Linked DNA regions of Homo sapiens: regions 2 and 3 are each linked to region 1. The links come from fine-mapping of genetic effects on gene expression. A gene starts in region 1. Each other region holds a variant in brackets. All regions are shown on one strand. Distances are between the middles of the regions. Region 1 holds the start of TDRD9 (tudor domain containing 9). Region 2 overlaps TDRD9 (tudor domain containing 9). Region 3 overlaps TDRD9 (tudor domain containing 9).

The links.
Region 2: its variant is fine-mapped to the expression of TDRD9 in whole blood (INTERVAL, PIP above 0.99).
Region 3: its variant is fine-mapped to the expression of TDRD9 in whole blood (INTERVAL, PIP above 0.99).

The regions. Positions count from the first base shown.
Region 1 is chr14:103,923,289-103,933,769 of GRCh38, reverse strand. TDRD9 (tudor domain containing 9) reads right to left here and starts at 5,314. Exons shown (of 36, transcript NM_153046.3): 1 at 5,046-5,314. The coding sequence starts at 5,260.
Region 2 is chr14:103,956,745-103,967,225 of GRCh38, reverse strand. TDRD9 (tudor domain containing 9) reads right to left here. Exons shown (of 36, transcript NM_153046.3): 3 at 4,050-4,147; 4 at 1,672-1,893; 5 at 395-517. Among named protein-coding and RNA genes, the nearest start is that of RD3L, 19 kb to the right of the region's middle. The variant G/C (reference allele first, on the strand shown) is at 4,987.
Region 3 is chr14:104,039,743-104,050,223 of GRCh38, reverse strand. It overlaps TDRD9 (tudor domain containing 9), which reads right to left. Exons shown (of 36, transcript NM_153046.3): 33 at 9,890-10,028; 34 at 8,037-8,155; 35 at 544-616. Among named protein-coding and RNA genes, the nearest start is that of ASPG, 41 kb to the left of the region's middle. The variant C/T (reference allele first, on the strand shown) is at 5,355.

The sequences.
Region 1 (10,481 bases):
CAATACAGCAGGCATTCAACTTCAGTAAGAGACAAGTGCAAAAACCAAGACTTAGGGACCTGGGCCAGATGCGGTGGCTCACACCTGTAATCCCAGCACTTTGGGAGGCCGAGGCAGGCAGATTGCTTGAGCTCAGGAGTTTGAGACAAGCCTGGGCAACATGGCAAAACCCTGTCTGTTTTTTTAAATAATATTTTTTAAAATAATAATAGTAAAATGAAATAAAATAAAATAAATTAGGGAACTAGAAGAAAGTAATCACCAGATAGTGGAAATCTGAAAGCTTCCTATGATGAAGGCTTCCCAAAGACAAAGAACATTTTAATAAGGTGTTGAACAGTCAAAGACACAAAAGCGAGAATTAAGTAAGATCTTCATGAGCCAGGAGTTAACGTGAGCTGTGAAGACAGGAAAGTACACGGCAGAAAGCACAAAGAAACACAAGGCAGAAGGAAGCTGGGAGTGACGCAAGGCTCCCAGCCATGGGCTGCAATCCACAGGAAAGCTGGTGCTACACACTGGAGAATGCTCAAAATGGTATATCACAGCCACTGAGGTTTTCTTCTTCATATGCCAAGGTGAAGACACGAGAATGTAAGGATAACAGAAAGAATAATCACCATCAAAGAGTAAAATACAGTACCATGTGGAAGAGGAGACATGGGGAAATCCGTAAAAATCACTGGAAACAAAATTTATAAATTGTTCCCCACAGGCACTCCGGCAACACCTTCATCGTGAGTAAGGTGTTACTCACCTTCAGCATGAGCAAGATTCATGCTGGGACCCACAGGCGCCCACACCATCTCCGGCAATTCTTGTCTGAACTACCTATGATGTAGTCTGGCATTTTCTATTTATTTTTTAATGCTGGTGGTCACTACTCATTAAGCTGATTAAAAAAAAAATTGCCCATGTTCTTCTGCTGATTTAAGCTGATTTAATCATTAAGCTGATTTAACAACACTCTCTCAGACCGGACTGCAGTGACTTGGTGTACACTAATTTTACCATTGAGTGACTATCTCTAACAAATACATTTTAACTGTGCAATACCCTATGCTTATAAAAGCCATCCCTCCCGGCCGGGCGCAGTACCTCACGCCTGTAATCCCAGCACTTTGGAAGGCCGAGGCAGGCAGATCACGAGGCCAGGAGATCGAGACCATCCTGGCTAACACGGTGAAACCCCGTCTCTACTAAAAATACAAAAAATTAGCCGGCTGTGGTGGCGGGCGCCTGTAGTCCCAGCTACTCAGGAGGCTGAGGCAGCAGAATGGTGTGAACCCGGGAGGCAGAGCTTGCAGTGAGCCGAGATGGCGCCACTACACTCCAGCCTGGGCGACAGAGCGAGACTCCGTCTCAAAAAGAAAAAAAGCCATCCCTCCCCTATGTCAAATGTTCTCTCACTAATGTCAATGCCTCACTCAACACTCTCCTTCACTGGGAAAAATAACATTCAACAAGTATCCAAGTATCCACTATGTGCCAGGCACCGTGCGGGGTTCACAGGTCGGCTCACCCCAATCCGAACCCAGCTCTGCCACCAGATTTGTACCCTAATGCAGTGCTGCCTCAACAAATCGCAAAAACATAGCAGTTTCAAACAAGGCAAATTAATTACAAGTCCAGGTGAACTCAACTGGATCCCCTGCTTAGGGTTTCCTAAAGCTAAATCAAGGTGTTAGCAGAGTTGCGTTCCCTACTGGCAGTGCATTCAGGTTGTTGGCCAAAACCAGGCCCTTGCAATTGTAGGATCAGTCCCTTGCAAACTCAGTCCCTTGCAATTGTAGGACTGAGGTACCCATTTCCTTACCTGCTGTCAAGTGGGATCCAGTCTTTGCTCCTAGCTGCCCATATTCCATTCTCATGCTTTCCATGTGGCCCCTCCGAGCAATGATATTTCAAATCTCTCATTTCAAATTTATCTGACTCCAGCCTGAGAAAGTTCTCTGCTTTTAAGGGCTCATGTGATCAGACTGGGCCCACTCAGACAATCTAGCTAATCTTCCTGTCCTATGATCTGTAACCTTAATTACAGCTGCGAAATCTCTTTCACCATGTAACATTACATAGTCACAGGTTCCAGTGAACATCTTTGGGGGAGTCATTCTTCCCATCACCACCATTTGCTACAGGAAGTTGGGCAAGTCACTTTACCACCAAAACCTATTGCTTCATCTACAAAATCATGAAAGAATCAGTTGATGATAAAGCCATCAACCTCAAAGTGTTGTTGTGCGGATTCAATAATATAGCTATATTTAGCTGAGTGCCTGCTACGTGCTGGAAACTCTGGCATTGAATACATATGCACCTAGAGCCCAGGAAGCTACTTCCAGAAGAATTTCATCAAAACTAGCACTACTCATAGACCAACATTGCCTGTCACTGGTTAAATACAGAAGTTAAAATGTTTACATCAATTTCACAAAGTAATTTTACATATGTTGAATTTTTTTTTTTTTTTTGAGACAGGGTCTCATTCTGTCACCCAGGCTGGAGTGCAGTGGCACAATCTCAGCTTACTGCAACCTCTGCCTCAGGGACTCAAGCAATTCTCCCACCTCAGCCTCCTGAGTAGCTGGGGCGGCAGGCACAAACCACCATGCTGGGCAAATTTTTGTTTTTTTTTTTGGTAGAGACAGGGTTTCACCATGTTGGCCAGGCTGGTCTTGGAACTCCTGACCTCAAATGATCTGCCCACCTTGGACTCCCAAAGTGCTGGGATTACAGGTGGGAGCCACCACACCCAGATTGAATCTAATAATTTTTTAACTGCGATTAGTATGTTGTCTTTTTTCATTTCATTGCTCTGAAAATTCATTTTTATTGATTTTATAAAAGTCTCAGTCCATGAAGGACTAGAAATCTTAAAAACTTGTCCTTAGTGCTTAAAATGGCACTTAAATCTATACTTTCTGACAAGGTCAATAATAATTTACTTCCAATATTACAATGGGTTATTTAATAGCAATGCTGTTCACACCGTTAAAACTAAGGAGTAAGTGATGGACCATTAAGTAGGGGAGGCGGCCCACAGGATCATTTACCAGAGTAGCTCAAGGAAGTAAAGTGTGCAAACATACAAACAGCAACTCCAAAGTTGCACAAGGGGTCTCTCGGTCCCCCCTATGCCTCTAAGAACCAAATTTACCAAAGATCCCAAAGGTGTACTTGAAAGAACTCTACAAAGGCTTGAAGCAACCCACGAAAGCTTGACCCAGAGTCTGGGCCTATCCATCAAATCAGACAAGACTAACAAACAAGAGTAACTTTAAAAAAGAAAAATAAAGCCAGGCACGGTGACTCACACCTGGAATCCCAGCACTTTGGGAGGCCGACATGGGTGGACCACAAGGTCAGACCGACCTGGCCAACAAGGTGAAATGCTGTCTCTACTAAAAATACAAAATAAGCTGGGCGTGGTGGCACACGCCAGTAATCCCAGCTACTCGGGAGGCCAAGGCAGGAGAATCGCTTGAACCCAGGAGGCGGAGGTTTGTGGTGAGCCAACATTGCGCCACTGCACTCCAGCCTGGGCAACAAGAGCGAAACTATGTCTCAAAAAAAAAAAACCAAGAAAAAGAAAAACAAAACCACCTTCTCAACTGTAAAGCGTGCTGGACTTGGGGACTGAGCAAGAGTGACGGAGATACTCCAAGCTGGAAGTACTTCTCCCAGGGCCTTTTTAAAGAGCGAGAAGAGGGAGCAGGTGTTTCTACTCACCAAATCTACGTCTTTCCTCTAAAAACAGAGGATATACTCTTGCTTTTTATTTCCACCCAAATCAAGTGAACAGAGTAACTGATGGTAGCTACTTAAAGAATAGTGAGATGAGGAGGGAGTCTGTGAAACTTAACAAAGATTCAGCATTTGCACTCCTTGGTATTTACCCAATGAGTTGAAAACTTATGTCCACACAAAAACCTTGCCAAAACTTGGAAGCAGGCCGGGCGCAGTGGCTCACGCCTGTAATCCCAGCACTTTGGGAGGCTGAGGTGGGCAGATCACCTGAGGTCAGGAGTTCTAGACTAGCCTGGCCAACATGGTGAAACCCTGTCTCTATTAAAAATACAAAAATTAGCCAGGCGTGGTGGCATATGCCTGTAGCCTCAGCTACTCGGGAGGCTGAGGCAGGAGAATCGCTTGAACCTAGGAGGGGGAGATTGCAGTGAGGCGAGATGGCGCCACTCCACTCCAGCCTGGGTAACAAAGTGAGACTCCATCTCGGGGGGTGGGGGGAGAACTTGGAAGCAACCAAGCTCTCCTTCAGTAGGTGAATGGAGATAAACTGTGGTACATCCAGACAGTGGAATATTAATCAGTGCTAAAAGGAAAGAAGCTATCAAACCATGGAAAGGCATGGAGGAACCCCCAAATGCATACTAATACTAAGTGACAGAAACCCATCAAAAAGGCTACACATACTGTGTGATTCCAACTAGATGACAGTATGGAAAAGCAAAATTATGGAGACAGTAAAAAAATCAGTGGTTTCCACGTGGTGTAGGGAAAGGGAGGCAGGAACAGTGGGGCCGAGAAGATCTGTAGGTCAGTGAACTCTGTAATGCGTGACGTTAGGCGTTTGTCCAAACCCACAGAACGTCCAGTACGAGGCGTGAACCCTCCTGTAACGATGGCCTCCGGGTGACGAAGACGCAGCGATGCAGGTTCGCCGACTGTCACAAATACCCACACCTTACGCAGATGCTCACAGGGGAAACTCTGGGAGGGAAGGGGCCTATGGGACCTCTGCCCTCCGCTCCGTTATCCTGAAAACCTGAGTGCCTCAAAAACTAGTCTGTTAAACATTAAGAACTGAAAAAAAAAAAAAAAAAAAAACCTCTAGCTCAGCTTCCTTACAGGCACCGCTCTGGGCCGCGCGTCGGGTTGTGTAGTGACCACTCGCCCTGGACGGTCAGGGGTCCCTGGAGCCCCGCGAGAGGGCACGGGCTCGCGAGAAGGATCTGGATGGCCCGTGCCCTCGTCGCCAGGCCTCGCCCGGCCGCCCTCCAGCCGCCTCCGCCCCGCCCGCGTCCTACCTTTCGAACGCAGCGGCCGGCCGGGCCGGAGCTTGGGCCAGAGCCGGAGCCTGGGCCGCGGGACCAGCGCCGGGGGCCACGTCCTGGCGCTGCACCTCCTCCCTGGCCGCCCCTGCCGGGAAGGCGGGCGGCGCGCCCAGCAGCTCCACATTGGTCACCGTCTTGCCGATGGTGAACCAGTCGTTGATCTGCTCGATGGTGAGCTTCCGCAGCATCCTCAAGGCCCAGGCGTCGGCATCCCCCAACTGCCGGGTCTCCGCGGCGGGAACAGGCGACGGCGGAAGCGCACCCTGGAAGCCCCGCCCCCGCTCGAGGCCTTCCAATCAGAACGCGCCGCGCGCCCTTGTGGGCGGGCTCCGGCCCGGGCGCGTGCTGCCCGCGCTGCCTGGTCCTCGTGCCGCCGGCCCCGCCCCGCCGCGCTAGGCCTGCCGGGAGCCGCCGCCCCGAGCGAGCCCAGGGTGAGCCTTTCTAGGACCTCAGGGGAAGCTTGAGCGCCGCGGCTGGCCCGGGAGTCTGTTTCACGGGAGTTCCGTGGCAACCCCTGTGTGTACAAGAAAATGCCCTCCGGTCACTCCCTGGCCTCTCTATTTAGAGGCTGCTGCCTCGGAGGTTTGTGCGCTTTGAGCGGACCGGGACCCTACATACGTTTCTTGAGCACCTCAGGGTGAGGAGATGGAAGGCAAACCAGAGAAGGGATTTGCGTTCGTGGGTCAGACGTACCAGGACATCCTTGCACCTAATATGGGGGGAGAGGGGCAAGAAGAAGGTCAGGAAGGTCTCGGAGAAAGTAACGCCAGGCAGACCCCTGCAGGATACGGGGGAATGCGCCAGACGGAGGACCACCCAGGGTTATAGGGGAGGGCAGGCGGCCCTGATGGCTGAGGTGAGGATCTGGGAGAAGTTCTTTGCAGCCGGATCATAACTGAATTCATCTTCCTTCCTAAACCGGTGTCTCAGGCGGCGGTGTCAGACTCACAGCTGGACACAAACAGGTGCGGACAGGAGGTCCAGGCGATCACATGGACCAAAGATACAGGCTGAGGTGGTCCCGGCCGAGCTCTAGAAGAGTGAGGGTGGAGAACAGAGCCCTAGCAAACTCCCCAAAAGAAGGAGCCGCGGGAAGAAATCAACAAAGGATGCACGGGAAGGCAGCCACGTGTGCAAGGGAAGGGAGGGTCAGAAGAGAGACATGGCCACCTGCCTGGGGTGTGTCCCCCTCACTGGCCAGGGCAGGATCTATCTGGCCCATGTGGGCTCTCAGGAAAGAGCCATGTGAACAAATACAGAGACGGTATCGAGAGCATGGCTCTAATCAGCAGTGTAAAGCCCAAGCAGTGGCAAATAAGAGGGCGGTTTGAAAACACTGTAGACAGAAATCAGGCAGGTAGGTTGAGCTATTGGTGTCTCAAAAATTGAACCCATAATCATACTAAGCCAGGAGTTCTGGCTCCAAATCCTGGCATAATGAGCTCTAGACCTCATATTAGGACTCTGCCAAATACGACAGGTTCCCAAAAGTGCCTCAACACACTTTGCCAGGAAGAAATAACTTGCTTTTCTTTTTTCTTTTGAGGCAGGGTCTCACTCCTGTCGCTGAGGCTGGAGTGCCGTGCTGCAATCAGGGCTCACTGCAGCCTCAACTTCGGGGGCTCAGGTGATGCTCCCACCACAACCTCCTGCATAGCTGGAACTACAGGCTCACGCCACCACCACACCGGCTAATTTTTTATATTTTTAGTACAGACAGGGGTTTCGCTGTGTTGCCCAGGCCAGTCTCAAGCTCCTGGGCTCAAGCAATCTGTTTGGGAGCCCTTGGCCTCCCAAAGTGTTGAGACTACAAGCATGAACCACCATGCCCAGTCATGTTTTTCAAAAAATAAGAAAAAAGGTAATCATAAAGTAATTGAGACTCATGGTATGTCATTCAGCATTGATTGGAAAATATTGTAACTTCACACTGTATGTGGAGGCTAGGACATAATTCAAAATTTTACAAAATATATTGAAACCACTTGAAGCAACTCCAGAACTCACACTTGTTTTGTTTTGTTTTTTGTTGTTGTTTTGAGACGGAGTCTTGCTCTGTCACCAGGCTGGAGTGCAGTGGCGCGATAGCTCACTGCAACCTCTGCCTCCCAGGTTCAAGCAATTCTCCTGCCTCATCCTCCGGAGTAGCTGGGACTACAAGCATGCACCACCATGGCTGGCTAATTTTTTGTATTTTAGTAGAGACGGGGTTTCACCATGTTGGCTAGGAAGGTCTCAATCTCCTGACCTCATGATCCGCCCGCCTCGGCCTCCCAAAATGCTGGGATCATAGGCGTGAGCCACCGCGCCTGGCCTGTTTTTCTAGGATGTTGCTGTTACCGTGTGCTGTCATCCTTTGTTGATGTCACAATGAATACGATTTTAAGTGGAAGATGCTTTTCAAAAACATTTTCTGGGGGGCATTTTCTATATTCTTTGATCTTTTGGGCTACTAGCTAATCCTTCTGAGTTTTGATTTTTTTTTTAATTGCAATCCAAAGATACTCTCTTGATGCTTCTTTGGAAATTTGCCAATTTGGAAAGTTGCCATAGTGTTTCCTGACCAAACACTAGTTAACATTCTGAATCATCACAGACTGAATGGCTTTGAGCACCTTTCATTTGATTCAGTAGTTCTCGGTGCTCCCAACTCACTTGGTCAAGTTCACCTTGCATTGCTGTCCAAAGTTCAGAGTTAAAAGAAACAGCTTGGGCTGGGCGCGGTGGCTCACGACTGTAATCCCAGCACTTTGGGAGGCTGAGGTGGGCAGATCGTGAGGTCAGGAGTTCAAGACCAGCCTGACCAACATGATGAAACCCCATCTCTACTAAAAATACAAAAATTAGCTGGGTGTAGTGGCGCGCACCTGTAATCCCAGCTACTCGGGAGGCTGAGGCAGGAGAATCGCTCGAACCCAGGAGGTGCAGGTTGCAGTGAGCCAAGATCGCACCACTGCACTCCAGCCTGGGCGGCAGAGCAAGACTCTGTCTCAAAAAAGAAAAAAGAAACAAGAAACAGCTTGACATCAGATAGATCTTCATGGACTTGTCACATCTAGGCCAGAACACATGGGAAGGCCACTGAACCCCTAGTGAGCCATGGTATTTTGGGAAGGTTTTGCATATTTGCATTCACTGAGCATTTGAGCGTCCACCAAAAAGGGGAAACTAACAGCTGAGAGCAGTTACAAATGGTGTTGGTGCCATTCAGCAGCACTCTCCTCAAAGCAGAGGAAGCTGTGCTCGAAGTAGCTTGCTGTCTTCTCCAGCCTTCCTACCACAAGATGCAACATTCTGCACTTTGAATAAATCTGCTGGAGTGGCCCTTTCCTTAAACATTTAGGTTTTTTTGGCCGGGCGCAGTGGCTCACACCGGTAATCCCAGCACTTTGGGGGGCTAAGGCGGGCGGATCACGAGGTCAGGAGATCGACACCATCCTGGCTAACTCGGTGAAAAACCATCTCTACTAAAAATACAAAAAATTAGCCTGGCGTGGTGGCGGGCGCCTGTAGTCCCAGCTACTTGGGAGGCTGAGGCAGGAGAATGGCGTGAACCCGGGAGGCAGAGCTTGCAGTGAGCCAAGATCACGCCACTGTGCTCCAGCCTGGGCGACAGAGCAAGACTCTATCTCAAAAAAAAAAAAAAAAAAAAAAGAAACATTTGGTTGTTTTTTTTTTTTAAGATGTGCGTTTCTTAGGGTGTTTTGGATTTGAAACTAAAGACATTAAAACTCTCTTGGTCTGAGCACAGTGGCTCACGCCTGTAATTCTGACACTTTGAGAGGTCAAGGTGGGAGGATCACTTGAGGCCAGCAGTTCAAGACCAGCCTGGGCAACATAGCAAAGTCTATTGATCTCAAGTCTAGTTGGAAGTTCAGAAGCTCTGTCTTGAAGCAGCTCTCCATGATGTTCTTCCTTAAGTTTTTCCTAAATGCTTGTTCTCGTCCTCAGCAGTGTTATAAGTCATTATAAATCTAAAACTCTAAAACATTTTTACTATAGGACAGTGGTTCTCAAACCTGGTTCTGTCTCAGAACCCCTTTACACTCTTAAAAGTTGCTGAGGACCCTAAAGAGATTTTGTTTATGTGGGTTATGTCTATCAGGGATTACAACTGAGAAATGTTTTTACTTATTTATTTTAAAATGATAAACCCGTTTGATGTTAAACAGTGTATTTTTCTAAAACGTCACTATGTTTTCCAAAAAACATTGTGTGTGTGTGTGTGTGTGTGTGTGTGTGTGAGAGGAATAACACTTTTACATTTTCAAAGATCGCACCACTGCACTCCAGCCTGGGCGACACAGCAAGACTCCATCTCAAAAAAGAAAAAAAATGATTTTAACTGGATCTTGAGCCTTTTATTATTTTATCTTGACACATCTGAGCTCGTTTTCCTTGTGCCTGAATAATGAACATTTATTTTACTGTGGATCTGCTTGTGATTATTTCAGTCCTAGCTGCACCATTTTATAAACCCCCCACCATTTCACAGACCCTGGTCGGAGTGAAACATTCCATGGGGGCTCTGACCATAAGAAACATCCTGCCCAACTGCCTGACTGCGGGAACATCCTTATCACATCCTGCCAGGCAGCAAGCCATACTGCCCAGACCCATCCAGCCCAGACCTATAATTACCCCAGCCTGGAAGCGGCAGTGAGCTCGGGCACTAAACTGGTTATCCGCTCCACGGGTTTTTGCTGGCAATAAACCTGTGTTGCTGTTGAAGCCACCATCTCTCTCCCCTCTCCCCTCCCCCCCTCCCTCTGTGTGTGTGTGTCTGTCTTGTCTGTCTTTAACCCTTGCCTTCCCTTCAAAACCTAATAATTTCCTCTTTTTTTTTTTCCTTTAAAGATGGGATCTTAATACATTGGCCAGGCTGGTCTCAAAATTCTGGGCTCAAGCAGTCCTCCCAAAGTGCTGGGATTACAAGCATGAGCCACCATGCCTAGCACGATTTCCTCTTAGTTTGTCCTTAACTGTCTTTATTTTACCTTCTTTTCTGAATGCCAATTTCCCTGTGTATAGAATTCCCTGTGTATAGAATTCTTGATTGGTGGTTACTTTCTTTGAGATTTTATCTTTATCTTTTCTATGGCTTTATTGTGAGATTTCAAGGTATTGATTTATTTTTATTTATCTGCCTGCTTGGTTTCTGTAAGGCTTTTTGTTTGTTTTTTGTTTTTTGTTTTTGTTTTTGAGACGGAGTCTTGCTCTGTTTCCCTGGCTGGAGTGCAGTGGCGCCATCTCTGCTCACTGCAAGCTCCGCCTCCCGGGCTCACGCCATTCTCTCACTCAGCCTCCGGAGTAGCTGGGACTACAGGCACCCACCACCACACCCAGCTAATTTTTTTGTATTTTTGGTAGAGACGGGGTTTCACCGTGTTAGCCAGGATGGTGTGGTGA
Region 2 (10,481 bases), 33 kb before region 1:
AAATGGTTTGATTTCAGACTCTATTAAACACCCTACCCTTGTCTCACAACCTCTCACAAATCCTATTTATTTGCTGATGTGTCTAATTCCTCTAGAAATAAGTCAAGCTTCCCAAACAGAATTACTGATAAGGTTTAAAACACAAGAGTTTAAGAACCAGTACCAAAGTTCTTGGGAAAGTTATTCAAACACAACATTCCCCACCAAAAAACTCATGTTTAAAATATAAACAAAATCAAAAAACATTCCATCCTTACTGAGAAAAGTCCAGAAAGTAAAGGGGAAGGAAAAAATAAAGAAAGCTGAGACAGGCACAAAGACAGGGTTCACAATACTCTGAGAGTTTTTTTAAGAGAGATAAATATGACCTTTACAAGTAGATGACATCACTTACTTCATCAATGATGATATGTGTGAATTCCATCAAACTCTTGGCACTAACTATTTTCTGAAGCAGGACTCCAGTTGTCATATAAATTAGCCTGGTGTCCTCTGTTGCTATTTTCTCTAGCCCTACCTAAAATTGGAGAAGGAAAAAGGAAAGGAAAAAAGAGAAAAAAAAAGTTATGTCCATTTTATTAATATAATGGGGGTAAGAAAGGGAATGAAAAATTAAGGTATTTCGAAAGATACACAGGCTCCAAATTAAAAGTGACATTCTCAAGTCAATTATTTTCTTCTTTTTTGGGGGGAGGGCGGCAGGGGTTGGCTCATCTAATCACACTGCTATAACATTTTTATGTTAAAACAATTGTGTATCAAGACATCTTCTAGATTACAGATATAATTAAAAAGATAAAATTATAAAAGCCATAAGCATGAGAATTCTTACTGCTTTCCTATTCAACTGGAAAGAAATTACAATTTATTTTCAAGAAATTCTTTTTTTCTTTTCGAAACAGAGTCTCACTTTGTCACCCAAGTTGGAGTGCAGTGGCATGATCTCAGCTCACTGCAACCTCTGCCTCCCGGGTTCAAGCAATTCTCATACCCCAGCCTCCTGAGTAGCTGGAATCACAGGCATGTGCCATCATGCCTGGCTAATTTTTGTATTTTTAGTAGAGAGGGGGTTTCACCATGTTGGCCAGGCTGGTCTCAAACTTCTGACCTCAAGTGATCTGCCCGCCTCAGCCTCCCAAAGTGCTGGGATTACAGGCGTGAGCCGCCATGCCCAGCCTTATTTTCAAGAAATTCTGTTTCACTGCTTTTTAAAATTATGCCACAGTTCTCTTCTATAAGCAGCTGGTTTCTTTTTTTGTTTGTTTGTTTGTTTTTTGTTTTGAGACAGAGTCTCACTCTGTTGCCCATGCTGGAGTGCAGTGGCGCAAGCTTGGCTCACTGCAACCTCTGCCTCCCGGGTTCAAGCAATTCTCCTGCCACAGCCTCCCGAGTAGCTGGGACTACAGGCATGCACCACCACATCCGGCTAATTTTTGTATTTTTAGTAGAGACGGAGTTTCACCATGTTGGCCAGGCTGCTCTCAAACTCCCGACCTAATGTGATCCGCCTGCCTCGGTCTCCCAAAGTGCTGGGATTACAGGCATGAGACACAACTAATTTTCAGCAGAAAATGGTCACATACTATCAACTTACACAGAAAAAAACTTAATAAAATTAAGGAATAGAGAGACAGCTGGCTCTCTTAGTCCCTCCCTCCCTCCCAGTCTCACCTGGTAGCCCACCACACCTCCCAGGGTCCAGGCACGCTCTTTACTGATCCACCTGGCGATGCTGCTTGCCCCTATCTTCCGGGGCTGGGTGACCACAATGCTGCAGTAGGCGGAGCGCTGAACGTAGTGGTCCAAGATATACTGCGGGAGCTGAGTGCTTTTACCGCTTCCCGTGGCCCCATGGATAATCACCACGGAATTACTTTCTATCAAAGACACAACCTAGAAATTTAAAAAATTCTTTCAAAATCAGCACAAAATGGCAATGTAAAGTATCACCTATATTAAGAAGTCTTTCAGGATTTATTTTTCTTTCATCTTAAAGTTTTGTTTTGTTTTGTTTGAGATGGAGTCTCGCTCTGTTGCCCAGCCTGGAGTGCAGGGGCGCAATCTCGGCTCACTGCAACCTCTGTCTCCTGAGTTCAAACGATTCTCATGCCTCAGCCTCTCAAGTAGCTGGGACTACAGGCGTGTACCACCACACCCAGCTAATTTTTGTATTTCTGGTAGAGACAGGGTTTCTTTCACCGTGTTGGCCAGGCTGGTCTTGAACTCCTGACATCAAGTGATCCGCCTGCCTCAGCCTCCCAAATTGCTGGGATTACCAGCAATTTCCCAAATTGCTTAAAGTTATTAATTAACCATTCTAAACACAACACAAGAGAGCAAGGAGGCGACAAACGGTTGCCACACTTAAATGCAACTCTACTACCTATTTAACAGTAATTAGTGGCTGGGCACAGGTGGCTCACATCTGCAATCCCAGCACTCTGGGAGGCCAAGGCGGGCGGATCACGAGGTCAAGAGATCGAGACCATTCTGGCCAATATGGTGAAACCCTGCTTCTACTAAAAATACAAAAATTAGCTGGGCATGGTAGCGCGCCTGTAGTCCCAGCTACTTGGGAGGTTGAAGCAGGAGAATTGCTTGAACCCTGGAGACAGAGGTTGCAGTGAGCCAAGATCGTGCCACTGCACTCCAGCCTGGCGACAGAGCAAGCCTCCATCTCAAAACAAACAAACAAAAAAACAAAAACAACAACAAAAAAAATAGTAACTAGTGATAGCTGTGGAAAAACCAGGCCAGGTTAACTCCAGCTTCCTGGGTCTCAACTGCTTCTGTAAAAATGAAAATGTAAAATTAGATTTCTATGACTCTTCCCAAGTTTCTATTAACATTTTGTAATGAATCTGCAAATAATTCTACTGAACATGAGAAAAAGAGCTGTTACTACATTCAAGTGGTTTTAAAATGTCATCTTAAATTCTTCAGACATATTTTTATCTATTAAATATCTGTTTATTTATTTTTAGACACAGGCTCTAGCTCTGTCACCCAGGCTGGAGTGCAGTGGCACAATCATGGCTCACTGCAGCTTTGACCTCCTAAGCTCAAGCCATCCTGCCACCTCAGCATCCCAAGCCAGGACCACAGGCACGTGCCACCATATTCCACTAATTTTGGGGGGTGTGTTTTGTAGAGATGAGGTCTTGCTATGTTGCCCAGGCTGGTCTGGAACTCCTGGCCTCAAGTGATCCTCCCACCTCCAGACATATTTGGAAACAAGTAACTTCCACTTTTCCACTTACAGATTATATGCAGCATTTTTAAAACTCCACTCAAATTCCTCCTCCAGAACTCCCCGACCTCCACTCTAAACTTATTTAAGCTCTTATCCTTCTAACAATTGATATGGTCAGGAAATACAAATTAATTTGAATACTGGCCTCTAATTTTTAGTTGCATGATTTACTCTAAAGCAAAGTAAAAATTAAATTTGAAACATTTCTAGTTTTATCTGTAACTCCTTCTTCCAGTTAATAAAGGTTCCGATACGCTTACTCTTAACGATGCTTAATAACACGCAAGTAATTAGGAACTTAATCGTCCTACTGTTACATCTGCCTGGCATTGTTAATACAATGGTATGTCAATGATTGATTACATTAATCAACAGGCAGAGAAAGGGCCAACGCTGTAAAGAAAACCCAGTGGAAATGCTAGGGTATGTCATTTGCTTCATAAAAACATTTAGCAGTGAGTTTATTTAAACAAGAAGCTCTCCTGGGGAAGACTAAGTGTTTACTTGCAGATATTTTGAGGAAGGAAAGACTAGATAAACTAAATGTTAGAAGATGTACTCAGGCGAAGACTAAAGAAATTAAAGCACAGATCAAAAGAAAAGCCATCGATATGGTTACTACACAAAATCATCTGCAGGTTGGCCTGAGCACACCCTCCTCTTATCCACCACAGAACCTTGTACACCACAGAAGTGTTCACCTGGCAACTGGTAACTTTCAAATTAGAAACCAAAAGTATTGGGCCTCAGACATGTATTCAAACAGCAAAATTACAGTATAACAAAACAATTTTACCTCTTCCTTGTATCGACTTATAGGCAAATCAGGATATTTATAAGTTGTCCCTGGGATGCATGTCACACTGCTTAATTTAGCCAAAGATGGCCTTGGACCTGGATTAAGGCAAAACAAACAAATACAATGCCATTTCTTATCTGGAAAAAGATAACTCAATGTTCTAATCTATAGATACAGCATACACACACACACACACACACACACACACTCAAATACAAAAATACATTTTCTACAGGCTAAAACTGCCATCAGGGCAATACCAAAGACATGGAACGAACATAGGTATCCATCAATGGTGGATTGGATAAAGAAAACATGGTACATATACACCATGGAATAATATGCAGCCATAAAAAAGAATGAAATCATGTCCTTTGCAGCAAGCAACATGGATGTAGCTGGAGGCCATCTAAGCAAATTAACACAGAAACAGAAAACCAAATATTAAATGTTCTCACAACTGGGAGCTAAACCTTGGGTACACACGAACATAAAGATGGGAATAACAGACACTAGGGACTCCAAGAAGAAGAGGGAGGGAGGGGCAAGGGCTGAAAAACTTCCTACTGGGTACTGTGTTCACTATACAGGTGATGGGATCAGTGGAAGCCCAAACCTCAGCATCACCCAATATACTCTTGTAACAAACCTGAACATGCACCCCCGAATCTAAAATAAAAAGTTTAATTTCTTAAGAAACTTCCCTTAGCAGCCCACTATTAATCTTGTATAAAAGCAAACTGAGAACATTCTATCCCTCCATCACAGCCACCAATATTGCAAGCTCAGCACTGCCTTCTAAAACAGGCCTGTAAAACACGCACTCATTGCTGATTCAGTGGTACCAAAACAGTTAAAGAGAAAACTTTTCCTTGAAATTTCAACAGAATGCATCAATTTAAGTGTGCATTCCCTGCTACTAAAATACATCAGT[G/C]ATAGCAATAAATAAATCAAACAATTTATGAAATACAGGTATCAGGAAAGCAGGCAGCTTGCCTCTGCTCAGGATACATGACACAGAGCTCTGACCAGGCACACTTCTCTGCCCTCTTGTAAAAACATGCCCTGCTCTCTGGCTGCACTACAAATTCTAAACCTCTGGTCATCACTTGACAAACTGGCAAATCATCAAAACTCACGGAAGACAAACTTTTGCTGGGAAATAAGTTTTACTTCCAAAATAAACTCTTAGCCAAATTTAGCACCGCACTCATTCCCTTACCCCACGACTCACCTTCCCTTCCTATCAGCCCCTTGTTTCTGACCAGCATCTCCTGCTGTGTCACCCTCGGCCTTTCCTAATAAAACACACAACCAGGCTTCTCTCTTGTTTTCCTACATCTTTTCCCTACATATATTCCCATTTTCCTAACTGGTCTAATAACATGTAATTAAAATGTGGCTATTTTCCCACATTTGAATCAAAGTTACGTGGTCCCTGTTCTCAATTATATAAACAGAGGAACCAGATCTGTCATACTTTCTCAAAGCAAAAATAGCTTCTTTGTGAGTATGTTCTTCCTAAAATATTAGTGACCCCTAACTCAGGAAAGCTGTCCTGCCGATATGGCTTTTTTTTTTTTCCTTTTTTCTTTTTCTTTTTTCTTTTTCTGGACAGAGTCTTGCTCTGTCCCCCAGGCTGGAGTGCAGTGGCGCGATCTCGGCTCACTGCAACCTCTGCCTCCTGGGTTCAAGCGATTCTCCTCCCTCAGCCTCCTGAGTAGCTGGGATTACAGGTGCCCACCACCACACCCGGCTAATTTTTGTATTTTTAGTAGAGATGGGGTTTCACCATGTTGGTCAGGCTGGTCTTGAACTCCTGATCTCGGCCTCTCAAATTGCTGAGATTACAGGCATGAGCCACCACGCCTGACCTATGGCTTTTTAATCTTCTAATCAGCCTAACTAGTGATTGCCAAGTTTACTAAAACAGGGATTTTCTTTCCATTATCACGTCTCACTTTCCTTCCATTCCTCTTCTCAGTGCTATGGTAATTACTGATGCCTTCTTGTTTTCCCAGTTAATATACCTAGGCCTTCTTGAACATAATGAAAGAAGGGGAAGAGAATCCCCATGGCCCTTGTGAACTGGACTGAGAGAAAGAAGGCCCTGAGCCCAGACACAGCATGCAGACAAAGGGAGAGGCAAGTATTCTAGTGAGGAACAGGGTGGGAGTAAGAAGCTGAGGAAGAGCTACTCAAAGGGGAAAGAAGGTGACAAAGATTCTTTTAGAAAGACGAAAAAGGCTGCAGCCACGTTCGTTTTGCTAAAAGACTTCAAGCCCTGGCTCACATGCCGCTAAACAAGCCCTGTTACTTAGACAATATTGGCTTACATTACTTGATTACATGCATTTTGAAGACTGCTACTTAAAGACAGAAATTTTACAAGAAAAAATGCCAGAAGTCCTAACGGTACTGTCTATACCATAGCCCCTTCTCCATGTAACGCAAAACACAAGCTGACATTTTTAGGTCACTGGCTGAAGCAGACCCAGCACAAATCAAGTCCTGCCTCCGCGTACACTGCCAAAGGGCAGACAGGAAACCAAACAGCAGAAATGTTCCCAGCTGTGTGGCTCTCGCACCTTTGCATCAGCAACAGAATAAGAAGGAAATCCATCACGGATAATTTAAGGCAAATCAACAAACTACATACAACAAAGCAAAAATCCAAAAACGGCATGAGGACCAGCTCAACCTTAAAATTGACTATTCTTATTTTCTTGCTGTCTCTTTATCCTACATGATTAACAACACAATGTTTTACATGAACTGGGGAAAACTGGAAGCCATAAAAATTGCTAGTTCTCTTCACTAAGACATATCACTATATCACCATCAACCAAATATGAAATCTAACCAAAAAGTTCAGCACCTAGAGGTTCTAAACAGCATGTAAGGAATTTTAACTGGTAAGTATGTCAGTTCACATGGTGAACTTAAGACTTATCTTCAAATCTACACACTATATATTACAGAAAATAATTTTAATTACTGGATTACTGATGTAACCATAAAATTAAATCTTCCAAATAGATAATTATATATGACTTTCTCCAAATATGGACTAGTATTCTGAATACAAAATTAACTTGAAGGAAGAATAATGTTTCTCTTTCGGTTATTAGACATTCCACATAGGCCATTCTCTTAAAACCAGAAGAAAAGCTAAAAGGAGGATGAAAACAGCCACTAAATATATCACCACATTTAAAAGGAGGCAGCACTGTGGAATTTAACTACAATCTAAAGACTGTATCCCAGGACAAATTCAAATTGTTGTGTGAAAGCAACAGAACCCTTCAGGAGTCGACAACCTAGAACTAGGCTCACACTGTAAGGAAAGATTTCATTTATCAATGCAAATAAATCTCAGTTTTTAAAAAATGATTAATCTTTAACCATGTAAAATGATTCTACTGTAATCGATAGAAATTCACTGAATGGGTGTCCTTGGATTTCTATTTAGAAATAATTTTTAATACTTATAAGTGAAATAACACCTGTATCAGGCCAAAATCAAAAGTGTTTTGAATCAAATTATTTTATAACTGGATATAACAAAATGTTCATGCTGAAACCTGTGGCACTGGACTGGAATTAGAGGCATCAGTGTAATCTCATGGTTTTAATAGAAATAGACATAGAAATAGCTTTGTGTCTGTGTGTGTGTGTGTGTATGTATACATACACACACACACACACACACACACACGATAACCTGACCTTACTTCTTCAGTGCTCCAGAGGCACTTCAACACTTCAAAACATTTAGCAGACATGACGGTGACATGTTTACAGTCCCAGCTATTCAGGAAGCTGAGGCTGGAGGATCACTTGAGTCTAGGAGTTCAAGGCCTACCTGGGCAACATAGCAAGACCTCATCTCAAGGAAAAAGAAGTGGACAGCACCTCTCTGCCTCCTGTGGCCTCCTCCCTCACCCTGTGTCCAAGGCATCACCAATTCCTGTCCGGTTTGTCCTTCAACTGGCTCTCCTCCTCCACTGCCATCCTCTGTCAAAGACACCATCAAGTCTCACCTGGACTAGGACAATGCCTCCAATTCTCCTCAGGTCCACTCTGGCCCCCTCCAATCAACTCTCAAAAATATGACCAAAGCACTTTTTGTAAAACACAAATCTAAACACATGACACCCTCTTCCTCCCTTCACAGTCATCCCAAGAAAAGCATGGAAACTTTCATACCTTCCCACTGCTCTGAGTATTAAGACCAAAACTCTTCGTTACAGCCCACAGGCCCTATTACTAGTCTTGCCTATCTCATCCAACCTCATCCAATACAAGTGTGTTAGTTTTTTACTGCTGCTGTCACATTTTACCTCAAACTTAGTGGCTTAAAACATGCATTTATTCTCTTACAGTTCTGGAAGCAGAGGTTCAAAGATGAGAAGGACAAGGTGTTGGCATGGCTGCTGGATCCTTCCGGAGGCTCTGTAAAGAAGAATCTATTCCCTTGCCTTATCAGCCATGGAGAAGCTGCCTGCATTGGCTCATGGCCTCTTCCTTGTATCACTCCAACCTATGACTTCTGTTGTCACATCTACTACTGACTGATCTTCCTGCTTCCCTCTAGGAAAAACCCTGTGATGACATTAGGCCCACCTGGAAAATCTTCCCATCTCAAGATCCTTAATTTGCATCTGCAAAGACCCCTTTACCATGAAGGTGATATATTCACAGGTCCTGGGGATTAGAACATGGACCTCTTTAGGAGGCTATTAGCCTCCAGCTGACCCTGCCCAGCCCTCCCACACCCACTGTCTACTCCCTAGCAGCACTGGCCCCTCTTTCAGGGCTGGAATACCAGGCTTCCTCCCAGCACAAGGCCTCTGCACACATTTCCCTCCCTGCACCCCCACACTGCCTCAGTAAGGTCCACTCACCCTTCAGATCAAAGCTCAACTGTTACTTTCCTGACACCACAGCCCAAGTCAAATCCTTGTTTTACACCCCCATAGAGCTGGCTTTCAGATAACTTATTTCCAAAAAGCATTTATTTGTGTAACTGGATGACTAAATGATCATCTCTACAATGATCAGAGATGATCAGAGTTAAAGTCTTTTTTACTTGTCATATTCTCGCTGTCTCATACAGTCCCTGGAACACACCTTGATAAATGTCAGTGGCTAAGTAGCCCAAACCTCCATAAATAGCCAAAGCCATAGTTGATCCGACTGCCCAGAGAAAAGCCCCAAATATATTATGATACCATGCATAAAGAAAGCAAAGAGAGTTTCACATATGAACTTAAAAGTATGAGAACAGACACTTCGAGTTTCAGGCATTCATTTGTAATCTAGCTAGTCCTAAAGAGTGGTAATCCATCCGGCACGCTACAGGCCCAGCACGCAGGGTGTGCCGGGCTGCTGCCTGTGCCCCTGGGCCAGTACGTGAGTGTGACAAGAAGGATCACATCACACAGAGTCATCTATAAACTAACTAATGTGCTTTCCAAACAGAAGTATTAGATGATGGCTCTCTTTCCACAATAACACATACGGCTACTTCCTACCTCCAAAGCTGCACAGTACTCTTCCTTTGTACAAAAGACCAAAGTCACCAATCCTCTGTTCACTGGCATATAGGAGATTCTTAAGACTTCCCATAGATTAAGTAACAATTCAATAAACATTCTTATACGTACAACTTTGTACTTTTCTTAGCATAAGTAGAAATTGGACCAGAGATAACATACACTGTGAATGCTCACTTCTGTTAATACACTGGGTTGTTCAGACAAATCTCCTTCCTGAGATCAACTAAAGATGTTAGATGAAATACACAAACCTCTCCTTAAAAGCACCAAAGGGCTGATGAAATAGCAAGGAGACATCAGGCCAAAGCCTGTGATGAGGCAAGAACACAGAAAGGGAGGCAAACAACCAAAGGCTGCTTTTACCTTAAGGTGATAGATCTAGCAGAAATTAACCAGAACAGAGCACACTGACCAAAAAAATGAAAAACACAAAACTAAATGAAAGAGTGGGCCATAGATGATGGCTCAGAATTTTCCTAGACTAATTAAAAGGTACTAATTGGTATAGTCAAGAAGCCTAAATCAATCCCAAGAATGATAAGGATTAATCTACTATTATGTATTGACTGTATTTCATACTTTTTAAAAGGCTAAAAAAGAAAGTGTTACTTGAACCCACATTTGTGCCCGACTCTGAGCACACTAATACGCAGGATGGCAGGACAGGAGGCAGAGCTTCTCAACTGAACTAGCAGAAATCTATGACAGATGACCTCTCATAAAGCAAAAAAAATCAAAAGATAACTTCTAGCATATGAATAGGGCCTGGTGCTAGTAAGATAATTTGCTCAGAAAAAAACTCCATACTCACAGAAAGTAACTAACGGTGAACTCTGAACAGTTGTACTCTTGGGAACTGGGAATTTAA
Region 3 (10,481 bases), 120 kb before region 1:
GAGGGCACAGTGAGAAGGTGGCCATCTGCAGATGTCCCTCAGAGGTCCTCACAAGGACCCACAAACTGGCACCTTCCCTAGGACTTCCAGCCTCCAGAGCTGTGAGAACAAATGTCTGCTGTTCCTAAGCCCCTACCCGTGGTGGCACTGTGACAGCAGCTCAAGCAGACAAAGACAACAACCAGTACAGCCCGAAAGCCACCAAGCCAGCCACATGGAAGGAACAGCCAAGGTGCATTTCACAAAGACCAACAAGAGCAGGAAGGTTCAATCCAGACCCTCATACCTTTTTTTCCCAACTCACAGGCAGTGAGTTATCCTGGTGTCTGACTCTTTGCCGGGACATCACATAGAAGACACTGTGCAGAAACAGCCTGTCTGGTCTGAGACATTTGCCAGCTGGCCCCCAAAGCCATCCACTTTGCCTCCTGTCTCTGCCTCTCAGACCCTCGGCCAGCCCTGGCTCTGAACCCTGGGTCTGCCCAGGGCCTGTCCCCTCCTCCACGTGGCCTCTGCTCATGTAGCAGCCTGCGTCCCACTCACCTGATTCCACTCGTAGGGCTTTTCATGCCACTTGGGAACAATCTTCTCCCTTGGTTTTGACTGACAGAACAAACTAATTTAAAAAAAAAAGAAATTATCTTAATTATATATTAGTAACTGAAAACACTGCTGTGATTTTTTTAAAGATTTAAATCCTATATGCTTCCCACAGAATTGGAACTAGAATAAACTGTTTAAAGGTCAACATTTATGCAGTTATGATCAGAAAATATTTTAATCTATGGCATATTCAAAAGCAGAAAGAAATGGAGTGTGACAGATCTGTAAGACCTAGTCTTGTCTCTATGTTCCCTTAGCAACCAGCACTGCACACCACATGAATGAGTCAAGTTCTCTGAAATGTAACAGGACATTTTGTACCATTAGCTCTCAAGCAATCATGACAAGTTGGAAATATCATCAGCTTAAAAAGATAGGGAATTTGAACAATGAGGGAGTAAAGAGTTCTGCAGAGCCTCTCCCCACTAAAAAACTATAAAACAAGGCAAAACTGTATACATACATACATACATACACACACACACACACACACACACACATACATACATACATACATACATACCAACAACAACCATTTGAAGGCTCTGGAAATTAACCAAAGGCAAAGGCAAACAACAAGTTGAGAAGCATTCATTCATGACAAACTGCCAGCTCCAGGTGAGAACAGTGGAGTATGTGGAGTTCTTGCTGGGGTAGGGAGCCGCTCCCACCCCATACACCTGCCCCTGAACCCAGCACCACAGCACTCCCAGGGCCATAAAGGCTATGTGATCTGGATCAGAGGGGGAAAAATCCTCACACCTTGACTTGGAGCATTGTCAGTAAAAACAGCAATGAAGGAAACAGATGGGGAAAGCCCATAGCTTTCCAGCCTCACGCCACATCCTGCTTGGGGCCAGCAGCAGACCAGACTATTCAGGAGGTAAAAGGGAGACTCTGGAAAGGAGAGTGCCACAGAGGGGGAGCAGGCCCTCCACACATCCCTGACTGATGGAGGGGTGCACACACGTGGGAAAAACCTGGGAAGCCCTGAGAAAAATAGAGGCCAGGGAAGAATCAAAAAGTGCCTGAACTTGGAGTGCACTTTTCAACCCATACTTAGCTCCAATGGCAAAGGGCAGAAGCCTTCAGGGCAGTATTTAAAGACAACTTTTGATTGATCACTGGCTAAGCACTAAGCTGTGCAGATCAGATACAAGGACAACACCTAGGAAGCCAGGCTAAAAAATAAAAATAAGAATAAAGAAAACAAAACGAGCTGGGCGTGGTCACATATGCCTGTAGCCCTACCTACTTGGGAGACTGAGGCAGGAGGATCGCCAGAGCCCAGGAGTTCAAGGCTGCAGTGAGCTATGATCACATCACTGCACTCCAGCTTAGGCAACAAAGTGAGACCTTGTTTCTATAAAAATTAAAATTAAAAACATAACAAAACAGCAGAACCCAGACATCAGTGACCTCACATCACAGGGGATGGACTTACAGGTTAAGACTAGGCACTTTTCTAAAGTGAAACAAACAAAACCACAAAACCCAAAAACAGCAGCTCTGGGGGAACTGCTCCAGTACATTATCTAAAGTACCCAATTTCCAACAAAAAAATTAGGAGACATCAAAGACACAGGAATGTGTGGCCCACACACAGAAGAGCAGCCAGTAGAGGCTGAGTGTGTGGCCAGCTGTGGGTTCAGCACTCAAAGACCTCAAGGCAGCCACTGTGAACAGGTGCCAAGAAGTTTTTTAAAAATAGGATAACAATGAATCAGGGATAATCTCAATAAAAATTAAAAACTACCAAAGAAACAACAGAAATCCTAGAGCTGAAAAGTACAATGACTGAAATGGAAAATTCTCTGTACCGCATCCACGTCGACCTGAGATGAAATAATAAAGGATCAGTAACCTTAGGACAGATCAACAGAAATTAACCAATCTGAAGCACAAAAAGGAAAGAGACTGAAGAAGAGTGACCAGAGCCTCAAAGACCAGTGAGGCCGTATCGACCGTGTCAGCACGCGTTTAACACCAGCGCACTGACAGACGTGCAAAGCAATGTCTCCCTAGGGGAGAAGAGAGCGGGCACGAGGCAGAAAAAAATATTTGAAAAAATTCAAAACTGCAAATATACTGTAAGTAAAAGGATAGAAAAAGCTCACAAATGGTAGCTAAAGAGAGCTGGGGTAGCTATATTAATATCAGACAAAATAGGCCTTAAAACAAGAAGCATTACTAGAGAAAGAAAGCTTTCATAATAATAATGATCTTGTATGTAGGAAATCCTAAGGAATCTACAAACAACTACTAGAATACAGAAGTTTAACAAGGTCACAGGATAAAAGACCAATATATAAAAATCAACTGTTCCTTTCTAAAAAAAATTCAAAAACAAAATTAAGAAAACAATTTTATTCACAATAGCATTAAAAGAACTAAAATATTTAGAAACAACTAAAGTGCAAGACCTGCACACTGAAAATTCTAAAACAGTATTAAGAGAAATTAGAGAATACCCAAATGAACAGACACTCCATCTTCATGGACTGGATGGCTCACTACTGTTAGGATGGCAATTCTCCCCAAACTGACTCACAGGTTCCACACAATCCCTACCACAATTCCAACAAGGATTTTTATACAAACTGACAAGCTGATCCAAAAATTTGCATGGAAAGGAAAAGAATATAAAAGAGTAAAAATAATTTTGAAAAAGAGCAGGCCAGGTGCGGTGGCTCACGCCTGTAATCCCAGCACTTTGGGAGGCCGAGGTGGGCGGATCACAAAGTCAGGAGATCGAGACCATCCTGGCGAACACAGTGAAACCCCGTCTCTACTAAAAATACAAAAAAATTAGCCAGGTGTGGTGGCGGGCACCTGTAGTCCCAGCTACTCAGGAGGCTGAGGCAGGAGAATGGCATGAACCCGGGGGGCGGAGCTTGCAGTGAGCCGAGATCACGCCACTGCACTCCAGCCTGGGCAACAGAGCAAGACTCTGTCTCAAAAAAAAAGAAAAAGAAAAAGAATAAAACAGGAGGACTAATGCTACAGCAATTAAGACAGTATAGCACTGGTACAAAGATAGATATAAAGTAATTGAACAAAACAGAAAACCCAGTAATAAATCTTTACATTTATGGCCAATTCATTTTTGACCAAGGTACCAAGGCAATTCAATGGTAAAAGTATAGCTTTTCAGTAAATGATGTCATCACCACTAGATGTTCATATGCAAAAAATGACTTTAGGCTCTTGTATCACATACCACATACAAAATCATCTCAAAATGGATCAAAAACCTAAACATAAAAAATTACAAAAAGAGAGAAAATGATTGTGACCTTCAGTTTAACAAGGATTTTTTAAGATATAGCACCGAAAACATAATTCATTTTTTAAAAAGATAAAGTAGGCCAGGCGCGGTGGCTCACCCCTGTAATCCCAGCACTTTGAGAGGCTGAGGCGGGCAGATCACGACGTCAAGAGATCGAGATCATTCTGGCCAACATGGTGAAACCCCATCTCTACTAAAAATACAAAAATCAGCTGGGCTTGGTGGCGTGTGCCTGTAATCCCAGCTACTCGGGAGGCTGAGGCAGGAGAATCGCTTGAACCCAGGAGGTGGAGGCTGCAGTGAGTCGAGACTGCACCACTGTACTCCAGCCTGGGCGACAGAGCAAGACTCCGTCTCAAAAAAAAGATAAAGTAGTGTCTTAGTCCATTTTCCCCTGTTATAACTGAAGACCAGAGAGTGGGTCACTTACAAAGATAAGAACTTGATTTCTCACAGTTCTGGAGCTGGGAAGTGCGGGAGCATGGCTCTAGCACCTGGCCAGGGCCTTCTTGCTGCATCATGACATGGCAGAGGGGCAAGTGAGTACTTGAGACAGGAAGAGGCACCGGGGCAGACCCACTTTACAACAATCCATACTCTCTTGATAACTAACCCTCTCTCACAATGATGACATGAGTCCAGTCAACCCCTTATTATGCCCAGCCTTCCAACACTGTTGCATTGGGTATTAGGTTTCAAACATATCACATTCAAACCACAGCAAGTAGATTTCATCAAAATTAAAAATTTGTGTTCTTTGGAAGACATCATTAAAATAAGAAGACAAGCTACACAATGGTGAAACTAATCGCAAATTACTTAACCAATAAAAGACGTGTATCTAAAATTTAAAAACAATTTCTACAACTCAATAATGAAAAGACAAATTTAAAAATGGGCAAAAGATCTGAACAGACATTTCACCAAAAAAAAAAAAAAAAGGATAAATGACTGGCTAAGAGGAATATAAAAAGTTGCTCTACATCATTAGTCATTAAGGAAACGAAAATTAATGCTACAATGAGATACTACCATACTCACCAGACTGACTGCAGTAACAACACGTGCCGGTGCCTCGTGCTGGTGAGAATGTGGAGAAGCCAGAGCCAGCCTATGTTGCTGGTAGAAATGTAACATTGTACAGCTATTTTGGAAAACAGTTTGGCTATTTCCTTTTTTTTTTTTTTCCTGATAGAGTTTCGCTGTTGTCACCCAGGCTGGAGTGCAATGGCGTGATCTTGGCTCACTGCAACCTCCGCCTCCTGGGTTCAAGCAATTCTCCTGCCTCAGCCTCTCAAGTAGCTGGGATTACAGGCGTGTGTCACCATGCCCTACTAATTTTTGTGTTTTTAGTAGAGACAGGGTTTTACCATGTTGGCCAGGCTGGTCTGGAACTCCTGACCTCAGGTGATCTGCCCACCTCAGCCTCCCGAAGTGCTGGGATTACAGGCGTAAGCCAATA[C/T]GTCTGGCCCTGGCCTTTTCTTAAAAGATTAACATAAACCTACCAATACAACCTACCAACTCCACTCATAGATATCTTCCCGAGAGAAAAATACATGTTCACAAAAAGACTGTATGTGACTATTCATAGCAGCTTTCTTCATAATGGCCAAATACTGGAAATAATCCAAATATTTTATCAACTGGTGAATGGATTAAAAAAGTGGCATAACAAACAATGAAATATTATTTAGTAAAAAGGAACATGATACAGTATGGATAAACCTCAAAAGTACTAAGCTAAGTGAAAGAAGCCAGATTTTAAAATTAAAATGTGATTCCACATATATAAAAATGTCAGAGAAGGCAAATATATAAACAGAAAGCAGATCAGTGGTACCTGGGCTGGGGTGGGAACAAGACTGCGTGTAAATGGACAGGGGGAACTTTCGATCCTCAACACAGCTTTACTGAGGTGTACTTTACATATCCTAAAAGTCATCAACTTTAGGAACATAATTGATTAGTTTTAGTAAATTTATGGGGTTGTACAAACAATGACACATTCTGTTTTAATATATTAGTCAAGCAGGTGGCATCTGCTGCCTGCTGCCAGGAGAAGTCAGGGCACCCCTGCATCTTGTCTTGGAGTCGCCAAGGAAAACACACAGTCAGACCCTGGCTGGAACGAACCTTTACTTACAGAGGGAGGCAACAGGACAGGATCAGCTCTAGTGACTGGCAGCGGTCCCTGTGGCCAGCGGGTACCTCCCGGAAGACAAGGCAGGCCTGCAGGCCCCTCTCTTATGTGGCAGCAGGAGAGCCCTGTCCCATCCCTGCAGTGGTGGGATTGACCAGGTACCGTATGACACACAGGCTTAAGCAGGGCAGAGCCGGAATCAAGGAAAGATCTTCCCACACATGGCGACGAGCCCCCCACAGGCTGTGAGGACCCTTAATCTTATGGGAAGGAAGCGTTTCAGGCCCAAGGCCTGTTCTCAGACAGCAGAGAGGGGATCAAAGGCTGCCTGCATGAGACTGCCTTTCCCGACAATACTTATGAGTAAACTTCTCTGGATGACAGAAATGCTGAAGAGCTAGGTTGTGTTGACAGACTGCACAACTATAAATTCACTAGAGTTATTGAATTGTTAAAACAAACAAACCAATACCTACTACCTATGGCATAATAAGGCAGGATACAGTTACCCTTGTTTTGGGGGCAGGGAGTGATGGTGGCTACAACCACACCCGCACACCCTAAGGAGCACCGGGGCTCTGACCTCGGTGCTGGCCACATGGGCATATACCTGTGTACTTAAACTTCAACCCACATTTTACATAAAAATATTTTTACTGGCCAGGCATGGTGGCTCACACCTGTAATCCCAGCACTTTGGGAGGCTGAAGCGGGTGGATCGCCTGAGGTCAGGAGTTCACCTGACCAACATGGTGAAATCCTGTCTCTACTAAAAATATAAAAATTAGCTGGGCATGGTGGTGGGTGCCTGTAATCCCAGCTACTTGGATGCTGAGGCAGGAGAATCGCTTGAACCCGGGAGGTGGAGGTTGCAGTGAGCTGCAATCGTGCCATCGCACTCCAGCCTGGGTGACAGAGCAAGACTCCATTCTCAAAAAAAAAAAAAAAATTACCAGCTTGGGCAACATAGCAAGACCTCATCTATGTAAAAAATTTAAAAATTAGCCAGGTGTGGTGGTGCACACCTGTAGCCCCTGCTACTAGGGAGGCTGAGGTGGGAAGATCATGTGTGCCAAGGAGTTGGAGCTGCAGTGAACCATGCTCGCACCACTGCACTCAGCTTGAGCAAGAGGGTGAGACTCTGTCTCTAAAAATAAATAAATAAATATTAAAAATATTTTTATATAAAAGAAAATGAAGAGAGAAAACTAAAACTGGCCTTTCTCACCATTTCTAAGACAGCTATATATAGCTTTTTAAAAAATGCTTATTAAACTAAAAGAAACCAACCCAAAAGGCATAGGAAGGAGAGAAGTGTCACCGTGATACCAGATGCCACCTGCTTTCACAGAGGTCCAGGTCCCAGCCAGCACAGGACACTGTCAGGCAAGGAAGGACCGGGCCCTTCCCAGGGAGACTGGCTCTGGGGCAGGAGCACAGGACTGGGTAGGTGGAATGCTGGTTTCTCCTCCATGACCACTCCCACTCTTCTTGGCCTTCCCGGGGCCCTCAAGCTGCCTTGGGCTCATGGGCTACACCAACAGGAGCCTTTTGTGTCTGCATTCTGGTTTGGTTTGTCCCATGGAGAGTCCAGCAGGAGGTGAGAAACAGGGAAGTCAGGTCAGAATGCTCCTTCTCCAACCTCCCCTGCAGAGAGGTTCAAGAGAGGCCCAGCTCTGTAAGGCCCAATCCTACAAGCCGGACTCCCCCAATCCCTAAGACACCCACCACTAGGAATGGTGGGTGACACATTACCCACTGTGGCTTCCCATGCCCTGCCCACGCTGTCCCTTCAAGGGACACACACACACAGGACAAGGGTGCTGCTCTCCACAGGAAGGGCGTGCCTACATTCTGATGCCTCCCAGTGCTGCCTCCAGCACTGGCACTCCACTTCAGGTGATCAATATGTCACATTGCCTACACAATTCAAAACAGCCATGATCAAGGCAGCTGAGAAAGTTGACTGGGAAGAAAAGAAGCCCGCGTCATCACACAGCTTACCCTAAAAGCTTCTGACGGGCAATGTCTTGAAGCTGCGCAACTCTCTCTGGCCCAAGACACTTGCATCCATTTGGTCCATCACAGACTAGCTTGTTAATAGCAGCCCTGAGAATATTAACCTGTAAATGAACAGCAACATAAACACTCATAAGGCTCCGTCGTAACTGAATTTCATCCCGTTAGAGAATTCATAGCATTCAGAGTTAGTATTCTCTGTCATCAGTATGGTTTATCCACTCGCCTGCTGAAGGCATCTTGACTGCTCCCAGTTTTTAGCAATTATGACTCAAGCTGCAATTGATATTCACATACAAGCTCTATGTGGATGCTAGTTTTCAAATCTCTTGAATAAATACCTACAGATGGGATTCCTGGGTCATATGGTAGATGCAGGCTTAACTTCATATGAAACTGTCTTCTAAAATAGTGGTACTAATCTGCATTCCCACCAGCAATGAACAAAAGGTCCCCGGTCCCCCTGCACCACCTCCTTGCCATTGCTGGTTACTGTCAGGTTTTGGATTTCAGCCATTCCAGTAAGTAGGTGGTGCTATCTCATGGAAGTCTCAATTTGCATTTTCCTAATGACATATGATGCTGAGCATCTTTTCATGGGTTTACTGTCATCCGTATTTTAATTCTGTTGCTTGTTTTCTTATAATTGAGTTTTAAGAGTGCCTTACATATTGTGGATACAAGTCCTTCATCAGATATGTAACCTGTAACTATTTTCTCCTGGTGTGCACTTTGTCTTTTCTTCCTCTGAAGAGGGTCTTTTGCGGAACAAAAGTTTTTAATTTTGATAAATTCAAACGTATCAATTTCCCCTTCACAGATTGTGCTTTGGGTGTTGTATTTATAAACTCATGCCACACCCAAAGTCACACAGATTTCCTGAATTTGCTTGTAGCACTTTAATAGTTTTACATTTTCCCATTAGGTCTATGGCTTAAGGAGTATTTTCAAGCCCATAAGCCCCTTCTTGTGACCAGGCAATTATGACTTAACAGTTGCAGAGACAACACTGATACCTGCCCCCGGAGCATCGGCAGCTGTCTCTGCAGCTCCTCCTTTCCCCCGGCCCTTCAGTGTGGTTATGTTAACCTCACCCGTCTCATGGAACTTCTAAGAAAGAAAGGCGACTGAGTACTTAGAAAGTAGCATTTCTCAAACTATTTGTGGTAAAGGATCAGTTTTGGTCTTCCCACTTTGTAAAATGCAATAAAAATAAATTACTATAACGATGAAAGATCTTTTTTAATGTACACAAATACGAGCCCACATTTCTATTATTAGATTCAAATGACATACAAATACTTTGTGTACTTGCTACACAGTTTCCCTGTCTGCCTTGCCACCTCACCCCAGAGCTAGTGCGGTGCCCAGACAATGCTGCAAGCAGCTCAGCTCTGCACTCACGCTGACCCAGCCCTCTGCTCAGCATGGTCACCAGGCCGGGAGAAGGGCAGAGGGGCAGGACCTTGTGTCCTCCTTTCCCAGTAAGAACTAGCAAGGATGTTCCACTTCCTGACTTGGAATGAGACCCACAGCAGCCCTACAGCCCCGTGGTTTAGCTGATTGCCCAGAAAAGCTTATGCCAGGAGACACCAAATGAGAGACTCAGAGAGCACCATCAGGAAGTTACTTTTCACAGGAAAGATACATCAAACTGGCAAGTTAAGGAGCGGTCCTCCTGGAGGGTGACTCCAGGAGGGACAAGGAACGTGCACATCTCCAGGACCAGAGGTGTGTGTCTGCACCGCGAGCTCCACAGCAGACCCTGCACTCACTGTCAGGTAAGCAAAACCAGAGAGAGACAGGGTTGTGGTGCCGTGATGCTGCACTACCCTTACCTCGACGACATCCTCCACGCTGAATTGAACGTCAAACGCAAGCTCCATGTCGTGCTCGGGCAGTATGGAAGCCCCTGTAGCTGGATTCCACCCCAAACCACAAAGGACTCCAGTATAGTACTTGCCATTCTGATCAATCCTAAATGGAATGTTTTCAGAAGAGTCCATTATTTCAGAATTGTTAAAGTATATGTTTTAGCATGTAAAAATTGACCGATAAAATTATCCTAAATTCTGCCAGCCCTAGTACAGCAATTAATTTCACTTGTGCATTTTTCTGCCAGTTTTCACAATCAAAATATAGTTATAAAATATAGTTATAAGAATAGTAAATTCAGTATTTTTATTAATACTTAATAATTTGTATTAATACTTTATTAAGTTTCTAATGTGGTAGATAAGATAATGAAAAGAATATTTTATCATGAATGGGTTTTTTTTTCCCTTGCCTTCGAATTCTTTCCATGGGTTAAATTCTTATTAGGGAGATTTCTGGAGAAAGGGCTATGTACATATTTATGACCTGTCAAACAAGTCTAGCACTTAGTAAAAGCCTAAAAAAATGTTCCACCTTCTCATCCTAAAACAATGG